3 linked regions of the Homo sapiens genome follow. The protein of the gene in region 3 interacts with the protein of the main gene of each other region in a pairwise test. Each region holds a gene or a part of one and is shown on either strand. Other genes may lie near its edges.

The links.
Region 1: the proteins of GMCL2 (region 3) and CHCHD3 interact in binary tests that used the Homo sapiens proteins (3 or more experiments, as listed by UniProt).
Region 2: the proteins of GMCL2 (region 3) and BHLHE40 interact in binary tests that used the Homo sapiens proteins (3 or more experiments, as listed by UniProt).

Annotation. Positions count from the first base shown.
Region 1 is NC_000007.14:132,795,436-132,799,184, forward strand, and holds part of CHCHD3 (MICOS complex subunit MIC19), read right to left. Parts: intron 1,143-3,749; coding exon 1,007-1,142; intron 1-1,006. UniProt on the Homo sapiens protein: Component of the MICOS complex, a large protein complex of the mitochondrial inner membrane that plays crucial roles in the maintenance of crista junctions, inner membrane architecture, and formation of contact sites to the outer membrane.
Region 2 is NC_000003.12:4,977,171-4,980,919, reverse strand, and holds the start of BHLHE40 (class E basic helix-loop-helix protein 40), read right to left. Parts: upstream 1,484-3,749; 5' UTR 1,202-1,483; coding exon 1,122-1,201; exon of another isoform or gene 959-1,121; coding exon 889-958; intron 620-888; coding exon 512-619; intron 1-511. UniProt on the Homo sapiens protein: Transcriptional repressor involved in the regulation of the circadian rhythm by negatively regulating the activity of the clock genes and clock-controlled genes.
Region 3 is NC_000005.10:178,185,461-178,189,209, forward strand, and holds the start of GMCL2 (germ cell-less protein-like 2), read right to left. Parts: upstream 1,912-3,749; 5' UTR 1,840-1,911; coding exon 259-1,839; 3' UTR 1-258. UniProt on the Homo sapiens protein: Possible function in spermatogenesis. Probable substrate-specific adapter of an E3 ubiquitin-protein ligase complex which mediates the ubiquitination and subsequent proteasomal degradation of target proteins.

The sequences.
Region 1 (3,749 bases), on a different chromosome or scaffold from region 3:
CCAGCCACTAGGCTTTTGAGGACAACATAGGCTTTTAATAAATCTTGATTATATTCTTTCCACTAATGTTACTTTATTTTCCAGCTATCCAGATAATACTAACCCTCCCGTCGGATATTTGTAGAGTATAAAAATTTTACACCAAGTGATATTATTATAACTACATCAAATTAGACTGCAGAAAGGCATGCTGTGTAACTTAAACACTAGATTTAGTTGGGTTAGAAGGTCAAATCTATGGAGTTTGTCAGCAGAAGGAATCAACGTTTCCAACAATTTCTGCCTCTCAGAACAACCATATCCAACTGTTAAATTGGTTAAATGATAGGCAATTATGTGACCTGCCAGAATTGATAATTTGCTTCAGGGTTTATCATTAGCTTTCTAAAGTACATAAATTAGAGAAAATGCACGTCCTGTGAACATCATATTGTTCTGATATGAAGGGTCAAGAGAAGAATATGGCTATGGTCTATAAAAGCAGTGGAAATTCTTTTTAAAATGCTATCTCTGGTTTCCCTTTCCCTGTCCAACTAAGTGAACTCTATCAACTGGTGGAAGCGTTGGACAGTGACTGAACGGTGGTGTTTTGTTTTTTTTTTAACCTGGCCCTCTGCCTACCTACGGCTTATGGGCCCAAAGGTGCCAGCTCTTAATCTGTATCCTCTTCGCTAGCTCTAAATATTGGCCTAAAAGTATGAGGAATGACCTTGGGAACATTATTATTAGAAGACAAAAGTTCAGGGCAAGTGGAAAAAAGTATAATTGTAGTAGAATCCTTTTTTCTGCAAGTAAATGAGTTGTACATAAGGAAGATATGGGCTCTTTGACAATGATCGGACACAAGTTATGCCCTAATCAACTCATTACAGTAATTCTTGATGATGATGACTAGGGCTTAGAAAGCTTTTTCACACACAGTGGCCCATTTAGTCCTTACCACTGCCCCAGGTCATCCAGTTTTCAATTTGCCCAGTGCCCCCAGTGGCCTGGCTGGCACACCTACCTGTTTGGCATGATTGACACAGTGCATATACTGGGTGGCCAGAGCGGAGCATTTGAGGGTCTGGTGGGTGTTCTCACGGTAACACTGAAGAATTTTGGCCTGCAGATCAGCACAGACTGGATGAGACTCATATCGCCTGAAAACAAACACAGGGACCGCTGAGACCAATGGTCTTCATTCAGAATAAAAATCAAGGTTAAAGAACACATAAAACGCACAGTAAGACACAGATGTTGCAAATGTAGAAAAAGGTTTAAGAGAAAGAATTTTCCTTAAACTTCAAAGATAGCTAAATTTTTCCCATGATAAAAATGACAAAGGGTAAATAAATTCTAAGAAATTAGTTCCACTAATTGACACTACTGTGAGTTAGTCTGGACAATATAACCATCCCTTCCAAACCGAAACCATATCAACATGCCAGAAACTTGGAAGCCCTAAGTTCTCTCTTCCATTCCCATATCCACTTGGTCACAAAGTTGGAGATCCCTACGGCCTGGTCCTCCTGCTCCACACTCACTGTCGTTACATTGCTTCCAAGTGAGCCACATCCTGAATTCAAGAAACAACCTCCCAGCTGGTCTCTCAGCTTTGACACCCTCTACTCCTGCCTGCACACACCTTCCAGAGGGTTCTTTCCCATAGGAAATCGAAGATGGTCTCTTTTCCCAGCACTTTCTACACAAAATACAAGGCCAGCTGGCTGGTCCTTCTTGACCAGGTTCCTGCCTACTCTGTGGCCTTCACCCCCCAACCCTGCACACAGCTGAAGCCTGGACAAACCCAATTCAGGGTTTCGTTCTTACACTTCTCTTCAAGTCTAAGCTCATGCTGCTCTTGCTTCTGGAAATGCTCTACGCCCAAACTCCCACCTATGCCTCTATATCTGGAAAAAACCTACTCATCCTTTGATACTTCACTCAAGTGTCAGCTTTCATTAGCTCTCCACCCCCCAACCCTGGTACAGTCTATCATTCCCTTTATGGTGACCCCATTGGTCCCGTATTCACTTTTCTTGCCATGCATGTGACACTGACTACACCATAGTCTAATACAATTTAGCAACCTACATTTACTAGAATGTAAATTCCAAGGACTGTGACTTATTTTCTTTGTTACCTCAGCTATTAGACATCGGAACCCTACAGAAGTCATGTAATACATTTACTGAATGAATACAAATCGGTGCAAAGAAAACATTTTAAAGTCCCCTGGGTTAAAATTTTGCTACTTATACTTACAAATCTCAGATTTTAGTCAGATTGCTTCTGTGAATATGTGAGACCAAATGTAAATGTTTCCAAAAACCTTATAATATATGCTTGAAAAATGATAATGAACCAAATGAGTTATACGAATGAAGGTAAAATATTCTGATTAATACGGCAGGGAAGTTTGGACTGCAAGGATTAAATACATACAGAGAAAAAAAGCACAATATTACTACTTTTAATCTTGAAATTCGTGTTTTTTCAAATTAGTCTTAATACAAGAAGCTTCCAGTCTTATCACTTCTATTTTTGAAATTTAAATTTGTTATTTCCATAGTAATCTTGAAATCACATTATTTTAAATTTAATGGGTTCAAACAAAACCCCTAGAGAACACAGGGGGAATATTTCTCATCAATAAGGAAACGCCTGGGTGATGATTTGTCTCATTATTTTTATCCAGTACACTAAGCTAATATATATTTTACTAGAATAGAAATGCAAAGCATGTTGGTGGTTCCCTGACTTCCTACTATCCTCTAAAGAACACAGACATACAGAGAAAAAAAAATGTTTCAACAATTTTTCTATAACATCACTTTTACTTTTTCATTCATTACCTTACTGCTTTGTCAAATACCTAAGAACAGAATTAAATAGAATCCCAGGAGTTTCCATGCTTTAAGATTTCAAACTTCAGATGTCTGTGAATTTTTCTGGACACAGATTTCCCTAATCCTTTACCACGAACATCAGGATTTAAAAGGAATCAGCCGTGCTTCAAAGAGTATAGGCACAGATACCACTAAGTGACTAATTATAGCAAGACCTGCATCTAGATAAATATCGAATAAAATATGATTAAGCATCAGATCAGCTGAACCTAGCAAATACATGACTAATGACTAATAGCTCATAGGAAAGCAAGGTTACATTCTATCCTAGTGTTGACAACTGATCGTGTCTCCAATGTGTCTCAGATTTAAAAGCAGGGGGAAGGAGGTGAGGAGGGAAGGCTAGAACAACCCTGACCAGATATGCAGCCCTTCCTCATTAACATACGGGAAAAGACTGTAAAAATGAGCATCCACACACTGCATGTCATAAAGAAGACAGTTTATTTTTTCCTTTAAAAAGTCTACTCACGATGGGATAATTCACCTCATGTTATGGACTCCTTAGAAAGAGGTAGTTTAAGTTGTAGATAAGCATGTATCCTGGGTTGAGCTATTAGTCATGCAAGTTAAAGTCCATGCGTTATTTATGATTTGAAATGTGTCAAAATATACTTTTATCACCACAAATCAATACTACTCACTTCCAGGGCTCTTGATTTCCTGTTTGGTGATCTGTTCTGTGTGTGTGTGTGTGTGTGTGTGTGTGTGTGTGTGTGTGTGTGCAGTCATCCTCTGAAATTCTTTTTGTACACACTTCAATCTGTATTAATGATTTGATGGTAGAAAGAGGGGAAGAGGAATGGAAATCAGCATAATTGTCCTCCAGCTCCAGGAGTAGACTCTGGGACATTTTCT
Region 2 (3,749 bases), on a different chromosome or scaffold from region 3:
CATCCAGGCTTTTTTGTTCCTCCCGAAATACTATTTTTTTTTTTTCCATTTCCCCAACCAAAGGCTGCGAAGTAGCCGAGGGCTACTGTCAAGAAAGGACAGGCCGTAAAAATCACACACCAAAGCAAGTCCCCTTATTTGACAACAACAACAAAAAAGGTGGGGGGAGTGGTAGAGGGGAAGGGGTAAATAAAATGTGTGTGTTTCTTGGCGTGTTCCTTTAAGTGAGAAAAACTAGGGAATCCTGAAAATCACCAGAAGTTAAACTCCTGAAAAGGAAGGCCAGTTGGTGTTGGAGCCAACTTGGAGAGGTCCAAGTGGTTCTCGCCTCATTTGCATGAGTCAGCCAGAAAACGCCAGGACTGTGGAGGAGGACCCCACCGCAGAGCCACCCGCCAGCTCTGATCCGCCAGTCTGGTCTGCAGTTCCCCGCGGAACCTGCAGGCGGCGAGTGACCCGCCCGCCCTCTGGGCAAAGGACTGGGTTGGAAAGGGGCCAGCTTCTCACTTACTGTAAGTTTGAGATGTTCGGGTAGGAGATCCTTCAGCTGGGCGATGCACTCGTTAATCCGGTCACGTCTCTTTTTCTCGATGAGCCGGTGCGGCAATTTGTAGGTCTCCTGCAAGACGCACGGGGAGGCGGTGGGCGCTTGGGGAAGGAGATGAGAAGCCTATCCTCCCAGCCCCGCAGCAACAGTCCGGCAGAGGAGCAGAGTAGCAGAGTAGCACCCAGAACCATCGTCTGCCCTTTCTTTTCCAAGTCACTCAGAAGAGGCACCGAGCCCACACCCTGCATCCCCTCGCCAACCTCAAAGCGAGAAAACTTTTCTTGGAAACTCAGCGCGCGCGAGGGGCTGAGCGCAGGGTCCCTAGGGGTGCACTTGCTTACCTTGCTGTCCTCGCTCCGCTTTATTCCCCGTCTTGACTTGTACACTTGGTACATGTGGGCAGGGTACATCCTGCAGGAAGAGAGACCAGGAAGGGTCGTGACTGCTTGCGCACGGCTGCAGGCGTTCTGCCGGGCAAGAACCTCCCGGTGCGCCCGGAGCTGCTCCAAGTTGAGAGTGGCGCATAACATGGGGCTGCAGTTGAGGCTTGAAGGGCCAAGGAGTGCCAACTTACCCTGGTAGGTCTCCGTGCTCCAGTCCCGGTGCTTTGGGCAGGCAGGCGGGGGGTGGTTGCGCGCTGGGGATCCGCTCCATGGCGCGGCGAGCCGGGGCCACTGCGCGCTCCTGTCTGCACTAGCGGAGCGTCTGGATGAGGACTGCCCTGGAGAGGGCTTCGGGGGTCTCTCCGCAGATGTTCCTCTGAGTCTGAGCTCTTTGAAATCCCCTGGGCTGCTGGAATCTTCGGCTTTGAGATGCAGCTTCAGTTGGGGGCGTGCATGGCCCGGTGTCCCCGCGGCCTCTGGCTCCGACTCAGCGCACAGACTGGCGGTGTGTGCTCCCTGCGCGGTCTGTCTGCGCCGTGCGAGCCAAGTGAATGAGAAGTGGGGCGGGCGGGGAGGCGGGAGGGAGCGGGTGAGGGGGGGGCGGTTAGGGCGGAGTGGGGGGGTGGGGGGGCAAGCCGAGGAGTAATGGAGAGGCTGCGGGCTGGGTTAAATGGGAGCGAGTGGGTGGGTTGGAGCTACGTGTTCTACCCTGTGACTCCAGGCACGTCTGGCCACTGCCGGGGAGGGAAGGAGCGACCTGCCCGCCCTCCCCCGGCTTCATCACATGAGTCTCACGTGTTGGACAACGCTCCGGCGGCTGCTAGGGAGCCCCCACCCCCAGCCCCGGCCCCCAGGTGTCTGCGGCTGCGGCCGCCTTTCCCCGAAGAGGGGGTGGCAGCACGACCTGGGTCCTGCCCAGTTGGGTGGGGGGCGCGGAAGCTGGAAGGGACGGGGGTGCTGGGGGAGGGGGAGAAGTTGGTAACGTGGGCGAACCTGCCCCAGGGAAATGAAGTAAGTTCCCGTCTCCTGGGAGGGAACGGGGGAGGACGGATCCGCCCGCGTCTGACTCAAGCCGGGAGAGGAATATCCCCTTGCTAGCTCCAGCCCAGCCCTCTTCCTCCTCCCCCGCCCGGCCCGCTTGGAGGAACCGGCGCGCTGCGGAGGGAGTCGCCCGGCCCCCCAGCCTTCCCCAGAGGCTGGGGTTTCTTTCCGTCCTGGCTTCCCTGCCCCCACTGCTCACCCTCGCGTCCAGGAATTGCCCGCCTTGGGGAGGGACCGAGGGGCGGGGCGGATGTCACCCCATGGGAAGCGGGCCGACGGCCAAGCGCAGGGGCAGCTGAGGCTGCCGCCGAGCACGCCGCGCGCACCTGACCGTGGAGGGTGTGAGCCGAGGGCCCCTCGCTCCCAGGAGCTCCGCTCCTGGGCACAACCTGCGGGCGGGCGGGCACCCGGTTGCGCAGCCCCCTGGGTGCCCCAGTGTCACCCCCTTCCTCCCGGCCAGTCAAGCGCAGAAAGATACCGGGCGCTGTGCCCGGCGCTCCCTCCCTCCTCTGCCCCCTCCGGAGCAGAGGCGCCCCGGTCGCCTCCCCTCCGGCTGCAGCGTTACACAACCGCGGCGGCGGCGCCTGCCCTGCAGCAGCGCAGGGCGTGACGCTTCACGTGGCCGGGCTCAGGTCGTAGCACCGCGGACCGCGAGCCTCTCTGCGTTGACCCAGGGACTGAGACCCCGGGGACGTGGCGTGCCAGCCCGGATCGGCCCTCTCCCTGCCTGTTGGGAAGTTCGGCGGCGCTGTTCGCGGTCTGCACCCAGGGCAGGAGGGATGAGAGAGACAAGAAAAAAAAACCGCCTGTTACAGGGAAATCTTAGCAATCATGCGGTCGACACGTATTTCTTGAGCCCCCTGCTCTGCACTAGGCGCTGCACTAGTTGATGAATCCGACACGGATCCTGCCCTTGAACTTGCAGAACCTCTAGGAAGAGGTTAAATTGAGCAATAAAGGAAAGGCAGCCCTGGGAAAATTGTATCGAGGCCACTGGCTGACAGAGGGGAAAAACAATGAGAACTTGTGTTGCTTTGTGTTTTGTTTTTAATTTCATTGTAACCGAGATGCCTAGGTAGAGAAGCGGGGGAGAAGCTAACCCAAAGCCCCAAGCCCGGGGCGGAAGGACCTCCTCCAGCGGCCCCAGATCTCTGCAATCTCACTTAGGCTGCCGGAGGGCCCCACCCACCTCCCCCGGAAAGGTCCGGGCTCTGTGACCTTCTCACTCAGCCGGGAGCAGGGAAAACAGCTGAAACTCCAATCCCGCGGTGTGAGCAGCGCTGATACAGTCAGAGGAGGGAGCCAGTGGAAACTCATGACTAAAATAAGGCCTGGCTGGGGATTTCACTGACCTCTGCGCTCCCCTGCCCTGCAAGTTCGGGGAGTTGAGAGATGACTGTAAGCCCTTCCCACTGCGCTTCGGGTCAGTCACCCCACTGCTGAGTGACCTGGCTGTGGGAAGGATTGAAAAAAAAATGGGGTCACTGCCGAGACTGGGCGAAGAGTAGTAGCCTCGGGTGCAGTTAGGGGATCAGTCTTAACTGGCAGTGCCCTTGACGACCTAGAGAACTGGCATTCACAAGTTGACCAAACTGGCAGTGTATTTCCTTCAGGTCGCCTTGGAGAGCTCCCGCTTCCTGTTTATATTTCACAAGCGTCAAACTCTTTAGCAAGTGTGAGAAATGCCTCCTTTTCTAACTGCTAACTGGCATGACCTCACTTCGGGGCTCAGAGATCCCTCCCTGCCAGAATGTACTTTTGCTGGCCAAAGGCGGGGA
Region 3 (3,749 bases):
GCTGATGCTGAATTAAAAGCATGAGTTGACATCGTACTGACAGAAATGGTTTGACAGATATTTTCTTGGCTTTAAAATGATTTTTTTTGTATATGCATAGAAATGCAATGAGGATAAGAATAGTCTTCTGTATTGTCCGTACAGTTCATAAGGCCTTTGTCATTGTTAGTCAACTTAGATGTGAATATCAGTAGGGCCATTAAATTAAAGCTGGCCTGAAAGTTTTCAAAGTGCTACTGTTTCCAACTGATGAGATCTTCAGTTTTCTGGATTTTCTGGGTGACGATTATTTTCAATTCCTTTTTCTGGTGATATATACAAGAAGTTACAGCAGATATATAAAGGGAAGGTCAGAAACCTGCTGTCCAAGTTCATCACCACTTGTTCCTGATCCTTTTTAAGTATAAGTATTTGATAGCCAGTTGTTCTACTACATACTAGTTTTCCACTACTATCAAAAGAAGCCAAGCGTAATCTAAATGCTATGCTCCTTCGAGGCCGTAAACTGACAGACCCGCTGCGTGGCTGATTCAGTGTATTGCGTTTGAAAATGATGTATCCATTGGTGTAAATTACAAGTAGGTCAAAGCCGAAGTTAAAACCCGTCCAACACCAGTAGTATTCACCATCTTTGGCAAGCTTTCTACCACACCTCATGCTATTTCCCTCTAGGTCTTCTTTATTGATTTCTTGAGGCCCTACCTCACGGTCTTGTTCTGCCCGCAGCATAGCAAACCACTGCTGTTTATACACAGAAGACAGCCATTCTGAAGGTACTATACCATCTTGTTCAATAATTCTTGCAGAAGCTAGGTCACTGATAATATATTGTAACCTTAAATGTCTGAATACTGACACAAATGGTTTTCCTGGTTCAGTTTCAAGAAAGGCCATACCTTCAAAATCTTTTCTCTGTTTAGAAAACCAGACATCTGTTTCTGTCAAAAGCTGTTTTAAAGATCCATTCCAAGAAGGCACAAGTTGAAGGAACATCCACTTTTTTAGAGTGGTGTATACATCCATCTCCACTTGCATCACAAATAAGTTAGAGGAACCAATGAGCTGTTTCATGACATTTATACCGAGTTCTTTAAAAAGTTTAACATTCTGGTGAGTCATCAAATTGTTTAGAAGCCATTCAAGGCACTTTTTCTTTACAGAATCTAATCCATAGATCTCTACTGATGTGTAATAACCGCATACAGTTTTCACATTAATTGTTTCCTTCATTGTCTCACCACACTGCTGTATTAAACCATCCAGCTGCAGCATACAAGCTGCTGCCAAAATGGCAACAACTCGACTGGGTTTTATCAAGACATCATCTCGATACAGTGAACCAAACGCAACCTGCAGTGCGTCTACATCAATGTTCTGGTCAGGAATCTCCAGTTCAATAATATTCATGCTGGATTCTTTCCAAGAACCACTGAACATACTAGAAAAGTAGCCAGATTGACATAAATATATTTTGTGTAATCGCCATTCTTCTCCTAGAGCACAAATCTTAATGTCACTGTTTTCACCATTCAAAAATAATGTTTGATAAATATATTTGGATGTACTCCTTAATTTTTTCCTTGCAGGGGTGTTGAGGAGCGGCTGCTGCTTGTCCCCCTCCTCCTCATGCTCCTCCCTGTGCGAGTCCGGGTCACAGTAGCGGCAGGCCCCGCTGCTCCGCTTGCGCTTGTGACTGCCCGGGCAGTAACAGAAGCCGTAGCTCGCCGCATCGTCTCCAGTGTCCGGCCTCCGGGCCGAGCCCCTGGCCCTGGCACCCTGTTCCTGCTGGGCAAGGGCTCGCCTCGGCTGGCCCAGCACCCGGCTGCTCGACGATCCCATGGGTCACGGCTCCCCAGGACTTCAGGGAGCCCAGAGGAGGGGGTCTCTGGCCATGGCCCGGCCGCCGCCGCCAGCCTTCCCCGAGCACAGGTGCCTACACCGCCACCTTCTCACGCGCAGCCCCAACCGTTGCAGCGGACACTGCCGCCTCCAACCTCCGCACCCCTCCCCCACAATTTTTTTTTTTTTTTTTTTTTGAGACGGAGTCTTGCTCTGTCGCCCAGGCTGGAGTGCAGTGGCGCGATCTCGGCTCACTGCAACCTCTGCCTCGCGGGTTCAAGTGATTCTCCTGCCTCAGCCTCCTGAGTAGCTGGGATTACAGGCGCCCGCCACCACACCTGGGTAATTTTTGTATTTTTAGTAGAGGCGGGGTTTCCCCATGTTGGCCAGGCTGGTCTCAAACTCCTGACTTCAGGTGATCCTCTTACCTTGGCCTCCCAAAGTGCTGGGACTACAGGCGTGAGCCACTGCCTCCGGCCTAAAACAATTTCTTTTAGAGACAAGGTTTCACTGTGTTTCTCCGGGTGGTCTTGAACTCCTTGGACAGCATTCTTCATTGCTGGAAGCAATTCTCATCTGGCAGCCAAAACCAAGGTCCGTTTTAGAAGGACCACTTCCCTAGGAGCAAAGTTTTATTTGCAAGACCTGACAAAGGAAAATGTGTGTACCAGACGCTTGAGCCTAACCAGTCCAATGTAAATTTGCGACCAGGCACAAAAATAAAATAAAATAATAAAATAAAATAGGCCAGGCTCGGTGGCTCATGCCTATAATCCCAGCACTTTGGGAGGCCAAGGTGGGTGGATCACATGAGGTCAGGAGTTTGAGACTGGCCTGGCCAACATGGTGAAACCCCATCTCTACTAATAATATAAAATTTAGCCAGGTGTGGTGGTGCACGCCTGTAATCCCAGCTTTTCGGGAGGCTGAAATGGAGAACTGCTTGAACCCAGGAGGCAGAAGTTGCAGTGAGCCAAGATCGCATCATTACATTCCAGCCTGGGCGACAAGAGCGAAATTCCGTCTCCAGAAAAAAATAATAAGATAAAATAAAATAGAATAAAGACTTGAAGTCAAGCCAGGTACGGTGGCTGCTCACACCTGTAATCCCAGCACTTTGGGAGGCCGAGGTGGGCAGATCACGAGGTCAGGAGTTCAAGACCAGCCTGGCCAATATGGTGAAAGTGACCATGGCTGGGTGAAATGATCACTGCAGCCGGTCTGGGAAGGCAGAAGCAAGCAGAGGGCCTGGGCAGGATAGGCAGGGATTCTCTGTGGGGAGGATCTGTGGAGACAGGGGCAGCAGGATTAGGATGTCGGAATTGAGGAGGCTTTTGTCCTTGGGGGATGGAGTGGAGAAGTGGGGCATGGTCCTGGAAATTTGCCCTGCAGCCTCACCAGGCCATCTGGAAGCTACTTGTTGGGAACCCCGTGTGTGTAAAGGGCTGACCCAGGCCCAGACCCGGAGGAACTGGAGAAGGGCACACACTGAGACCACCCGAGGGGTGTGCTGGAACTGCTTGGCCAGTCCTTGGGGATGGGATGGCTGGGGCATGTGGGTGTCTTCCTGTAAGAAAACAGGACTTGATGAGGAAGGTGGGAGGCTGTTCCAGGCAGATGGAGGTCTGTGCCCCCAGAGCAATGTAGGAGTCGCCATGCGGGGCTCCATCTTTGGTACAGTGGGGGCAGAGATTGGCGAGGGGCATCAGGGCCAGATATGTAGGTGTGGGGAGCCCTAGATGGGCCAGTGCTGCAGGGGGAGGCAAGGTCATGCCAGGGAGGTGGATGGGACGCTGGACACAAGTGAAGAGTGACCAGCCCTGTGGCTTCCTCAAACCTATGTGAGTGCCTGCCCCATTCCCAGATGAAGAAAACAGAGGTTTCAATAGGGAAAGTGACTTGTTCTAAAT